Regions from separate parts of the Homo sapiens genome. Here region 2 is linked to region 1. Evidence: fine-mapped expression QTL. Tissue or cell type: blood mononuclear cells. Region 1 holds a variant in brackets; the other region holds the start of a gene. Each region is shown on its reference strand, or each on the opposite one. Region 1 overlaps ZC3H12A (zinc finger CCCH-type containing 12A). Region 2 holds the start of GSTA4 (glutathione S-transferase alpha 4).

Region 1 (2,906 bases):
TCTAGAGGGAGGGAAAGCCTTTTATGAGGCTAGGGTCGCGCTACTGGTAAGTGACAGAGGCAGGGTTCCAGCCCAGGTCCCTCTGTCCGCAGAGCTTACCTTATGCTGTGGGTCCCTCCCTGAGGCCAGCACTGTGTCTCCACTCCTCTCCTGTAATGTGAGGCAGGGCTGTAAAGGGGACCAGCCCGTGGGCAGCTGCTCACTCACCCCTCGGAACCTGATCTCAGGTGGGTGTTGTGAGGAGGGAGTGTGCGGATCCCGGAGAGGAGCAAGCGTTCAGGAACCATAGTAGTGGTAGTAGGCAGTGGTAGTAGCAGTTGTTGTTGTTATTTCAGGGGCTGGGCTTCTGAGGCCTTCTTGTCTCAGACCTGGGCTCCCACGAAAACAGGTCCAGTGACTGTGTCCAAGAGTGACCTCAAGGCTGGGTCCAGCTTTACATGGGTTGTGGGCAGGTGGCCTGATGCTCTGGCCTCAGGCGAGCTGCAACTTGGATCCCTACTGACTCAGCTGAAGCAGCCTGGGCTGGACCAGTCTCTGGAGGTTCCCCGGGGCCAGAGCCAGGACTCAGCCCCCAGTGACTCCCACCCCCATCCCCCAGCACAGGAATGGGGTGGGGAGGTAGGGGCAGAGAGGGAAGCCAGGGCTGCTGCTGACCTTGGGAAACCCAGACTTCTCCCGTCAATCCAGGCTCCACCCTCTGGCCCCACTTTTTTCCCAGTTCCCTCCAAGGCAGGCTGATGAGTCAGTGCTGGGTGGATGGCTCACAGGGAAAAGTTCCTGTTGGCATGGACGGGGAGACCCCAGACACAGGGTTGAGAAGGGATGATTTTCTGGCTGCCCTGAGGGAGCTCCTAGGTGGGCTGCCCAAGGCTGGCATGACATCAGCCTCTGCCCTCCCTAATTTGTGGCCCCTGTGGGACAAGTTCACTGTCCAGCTGGCCCTGGCCCAGCTCAGCAGGCATGCAGCTGAGTGCTCTTCCCTCCTTCTGTCACCTTCAGGCCAGTCTTCCTCTCTCTGACTTGGGCTGAGCCTGGATGGGAGGCTGAGAAAATCCAGTTTCCATGCCAAGAGGCAGCAGGTCACAGCCCATGCTTCGAGATTAGAAGGGGTCCCTCTCAGTGTCCAGCCTCATGTAGCTGGGCTAGGAGCTAGGTTGGATCTGTGTGACTCCTTCCTCTGGAGGTATGGGCCAGGAGCGGCTGAGCCCTGGGAGCAGCCATATGCAGTATGTGTTTGTATCCAGAAGGAGGAGGGACATGGGAGGAGGGGCTGTGATGAGGGGTGCTCAGAGGAGCCTGCTCCTGAGAAGCAGAGCCACGCACCCACCTCGGGGGTTTCTGAGCTGGGGTAGTGGCAGGAGGGGAATTCCAGCCTCAAACTTCCTGTCTCAGCTGCTACTCGGTTCCTGCCCGGCCACCCC[C/G]CCTCCCCAGGGGCAGGCGGGCTAGCCCCCCCATCATATGCAAATCATGGGGAAATTCACCTCTGTTTCCTTCTAAGGGAATTTTTTTCCACTCGCCAGGCCCAGCCCAGGCATATCTTTTCACCTGGGGAGGCTGGCCCAGCCCTGCCTTCTGTCCTGGGGCAGGAGCAGCCTAGCTGGAGTCTTCTACACACACATCCTATCAGTGTCTGCTTAGCCCGGCTGGGGGACCCTGACCTTACAGGCAAAGAGAACTGGAATGGGGGCAGGGATGTCTGGTTTTCCTGTGCCAGCAGCGCTTCCTCCAGTGCAGTGAAAGAGACTAAAGCTAGCTGTAGGGGGGCACTCCAGGCCTCATGTGCTCTACCAGGAGGAGGGCTCTGATAGCGCCCACTGATCAGTTTTTCCATCTGCTGAGGGAATATTCAGGTGCTAGGGCTGCTGAGAACCGACTTGTCCCAGCCAAGATTTTCAGTGCCCACAGGCAGTGCACTGCCCTGAGAGCCCTGGCATCCCATTAGTTCCCAGTGCTCCAAGATACTAGCCTAGGATCATGTGCCCGGAGGGAGGCAGGTGGGCGGATACATGCGCACACTGCATACCTGAGACAAGGAGCCAGGCCTGGGATGACCCAGCTGCCATGGTTTTGAGAGGCAGGCCAGAAGGCCCAAGGAAGGGGGGTGATGTGATGGGGGAAGCACTGGGCATTGTGAAGACACAGACCAGGGACCTGACCTATTGTGGCAGGTCAGGGAAGGCTTCTCAGAGGCAGTGACATCTCACAAGGGTTCTGAAGGAAGAGCAGGAGTTTGCCAGCAGCATTGTTTCTCCCGTTCGCCACCTGTCTCTCATAACACACTTTGTTCAAACTCAATTTTGGGAGCTTTGTTCTCCCAAATAAATTCTGGATCTTCTGTTAGAGACAGGAAGGCAACCGAGTGGCCCAGACCTGGGTTCGAGTTCTGACTGTCTCTTACCACTAGCCAGGTGACCTTCCTTTCCTTCACGGTAGCAAGCCCTATAAGAATGAAGCCATATATCTGGCCACCAGCGGGAGCTCAGTGCCTGCGAATCCCTGCTCATTCCCTGCGATCAGGGTCTGTGCCTGCCTTCGTACCTGCCTGAGCATTGACGTACAGGGTAGTGATAAGCATAGGCCCTGGGCTTGCGTCTCTCTTCCACCGTTAACTGCTGTGTGACCCTGGTGACTAAGCTGCCTTCTCTGGACCACAGTTTTCATCTGAAAAACAGGGAAGGAGTTGATGATGGTATAGTGCCCTCCTCACAAGCTTGCTGATGATTCAGTGTTAGACACTTATAACAGGGCCTGGTTCACAGCTCTCAGCAAATGGGAACTTTTATTATAAGCAGGCTGGCAGATGTGGCAGAGGGACCGGGAAGGATGAGTGCTGCCCTGGGCTGGACTTTGTCTCCCCTACAATTTAGAGACCTTCAGACCCTGGTGCCCCAGTCTTGCCCCCAAAT
Region 2 (2,906 bases), not on the chromosome of region 1:
AAAGAAAAATCCCTTCAGGGATGGTATCTGACTCAGTGAAGCGTGCCTGTGATTTTGGTGGACGAGAACTAGAACTGAACGGTGCTTCAAAACGTATTTTTCTTTCAAAGGTCTCAAAAGCTGTATGACAAATCCGTGAAGAAACAGCATATAAGGTACCTCGACTCCGGCGGCAGCTAAAACCCATCTCACGGACTCCATCCGGCCTCTTCCGTTGGGATAGTGGAGCTTGGGCCTTGCTGCCATGATAGCTTTTCAGGCTTTCTGAAATACAAATGCAGCAGCTCGTCGCAGACCAACAGTCCCAATTTCGCGTCTTCAACCCAGTGCTCAGGGGCGAAATGAATATTCAGGATTTTGGCACGGGAAACTGTTCTTTATTTTTGTTGCTGCATTTTCCCTCACTCAAGAAAAAAAAACCACCATTTTAAAACATGGAGAAAAAAACCTTGGCTTTTATATGATTTCTATTTATGACTTCTTATCCTGGATCTTGGGAAGCTGGGGCCATTTGTTGTAAAAACATATGTGCTAGCAGTACGGGATTTCACAAATTCAGAATATTATATATTTTGACCTCGAGAATCTCAGATTTTCCAAATTCAGCTGGGGGATAGGGGGTGGCAGGCGTTGAAGAGGGTAGCGAAGGAAAATCGCACAGCCACTGGAAGCTCTTCAAGTATTCATGCTTTTACATACATCATCATATTTTATTATCACGGCAACTGGAAGGTGAACAGGCCGAGTACTACTACTGTCTGCAAAATGTGCGTCCACCGTCACGCATGCGGTGGCTGCGCCCCCCGGGTCCCGCGTGTCCACCACCCCTACAGGGAGATGAGCCCCCGGCCTTGTAAAACGAGCCGGGGGCCAGGGCTTGGCCATCTGAGATCGCACTCTCCCATGCTCGTCTTCCCCGCTCAGCCCATGCAGGGGCGTAGCGGCAGCCCAGCCAGGCCCGGGGACGATCCGAGCCCACCTTCCACCAATGCATTCAGACTCCGCAGAAGGGGTTTAAAAAAAAATACGCACACTGAGCCAAGAAGGACCCCAGCTCCAGCCAAGGGGCCCACCTCTGCCCAGACTGGATGGAGCAGGAGGACAAAGGACAAGAGGAAGAAAAGACAAGAGAAGGACTGAACTGGGGGAGTGAGGGAAGAATGCGAGAGTGAGACTCAGAGAGTAAAGGGGAGGGAAAAAAAAGAAGAGAGAAAGGGCGAGGAAGGGGGCGACCGCAGGAGGGAGACAGACCTGGAGTCCACTCGGAGGCCTGGAGCCGCACAAAGCGCCAGGTCAGCGGTCCCGGCTGGGTGAGACCAGCAGGCGGCTCTAGCGCGCGGGAGCTGGGCGAGGCTCCGGGACGACCTCACCAATGGAGACTGCAGTATTTAGCATGCCCCACCCATCTGCAAGGCATTCTGGATAGTGTCAAAACAGCCGGAAATCAAGTCCGTTTATCTCAAACTTTAGCATTTTGGGAATAAATGATATTTGCTATGCTGGTTAAATTAGATTTTAGTTAAATTTCCTGCTGAAGCTCTAGTACGATAAGCAACTTGACCTAAGTGTAAAGTTGAGACTTCCTTCAGGTTTATATAGCTTGTGCGCCGCTTGGGTACCTCGGATGTGAGGGCGATCTGGCTGCGACATCTGTCACCCCATTGATCGCCAGGGTTGATTCGGCTGATCTGGCTGGCTAGGCGGGTGTCCCCTTCCTCCCTCACCGCTCCATGTGCGTCCCTCCCGAAGCTGCGCGCTCGGTCGAAGAGGACGACCATCCCCGATAGAGGAGGACCGGTCTTCGGTCAAGGGTATACGAGTAGCTGCGCTCCCCTGCTAGAACCTCCAAACAAGCTCTCAAGGTCCATTTGTAGGAGAACGTAGGGTAGTCAAGCTTCCAAGACTCCAGACACATCCAAATGAGGCGCTGCATGTGGCAGTCTGCCTTTCTTTTGACCCATTACCCATCTAAGTTAGATGCTTTTTTAAATGTTTTTTAATTTTTAAATTTTTAATTTTTTTCATTATTTATTTTTTATTTTTGAGACGGATCTCGGCTCACTGTAACCTCCACCTCCCGGGTTCAAGCGATTCTCCTGACTCAGCCTCCCGAGTAGCTGGGATTACAGGCGCGCGCCACCATGCCCGGCTAATTTTTCTATTTTTAGTAAAGACGGGGTTTCGCCATGTTGACCAGGGTGGTCTTGAACTCCTGACGTCAGGTGATCCTCCTGCCTCGTGCTGGGATTGCAGGCGTGAGCCACCGCTCCCGGCCCTTAGATGCTTTTTAATCAGCAAGTACGCAATGCTTTCCTGACAGGAATGTCAAGTCCGTCAGGAAATCCACATAAGGGTGTTAAGCAGGCAAAGTACCACATACAGATTAAAATCAAAAGCACTGTCAACGCTTATTTAATTTATACAGTAGACCCTAACTTTTCTAATTTTGTGTATACATATATATACATGTATACATGTATACAAACATACATATTTTCTTCTTTCTTTCTTCATCTCAGTGGGACATCTTGAGATTTCTCTTCATTTTGTACATTTTAGAGACAAGTGCTCTATAGTCACGGTCTCAAGTCAGCACCTGTTTGGAAGGGGGTCTTTGGAGTTGGGGGTGGTGCTAAAAGAATAATTTGGCTGGCAAGTTAGTTAAAACATTAAAAATATATTAAAACTATCAGGGCTATATTATGGAACAATTGCAAAATTCACATGGATTTCAAAGTTTGAAATATATGCCTTCGAAAATAAATTTTGTTTTTAGAGGCAGCTTCTGCTATTTCTCAGGCTATAGATGTTGTTATTTTCTTCACCCACGGGGGCGCTCGAGAGTACCTTGCTTGACAAGCCTGGGTGCTGAACAATTGCAGCCGCTAACATGATCAGATTTTATT

The links. PIP is the estimated chance that this variant, and not a neighbour inherited with it, causes the effect. A credible set is the group of variants that fine-mapping cannot tell apart.
Region 2: it holds the start of GSTA4, and the variant in region 1 is the best candidate, but not a certain one, in a credible set for the expression of GSTA4 in blood mononuclear cells (TOPMed, PIP 0.67).

What each region holds. Positions count from the first base shown.
Region 1 is chr1:37,476,067-37,478,972 of GRCh38, forward strand. The region is part of intron 2 of ZC3H12A (zinc finger CCCH-type containing 12A); the gene reads left to right. Among named protein-coding and RNA genes, the nearest start is that of MIR6732, 2.7 kb to the right of the region's middle. RefSeq lists enhancers at 1,169-1,468, 2,859-2,906. The variant C/G (reference allele first, on the strand shown) is at 1,422.
Region 2 is chr6:52,993,998-52,996,903 of GRCh38, forward strand. GSTA4 (glutathione S-transferase alpha 4) reads right to left here and starts at 1,287. Exons shown (of 7, transcript NM_001512.4): 1 at 1,252-1,287; 2 at 160-264. The coding sequence starts at 246. RN7SK (RNA component of 7SK nuclear ribonucleoprotein) reads left to right here and starts at 1,623; the gene lies at 1,623-1,954. RefSeq lists silencers at 1,208-1,439, 1,771-1,860 and an enhancer at 1,391-1,610.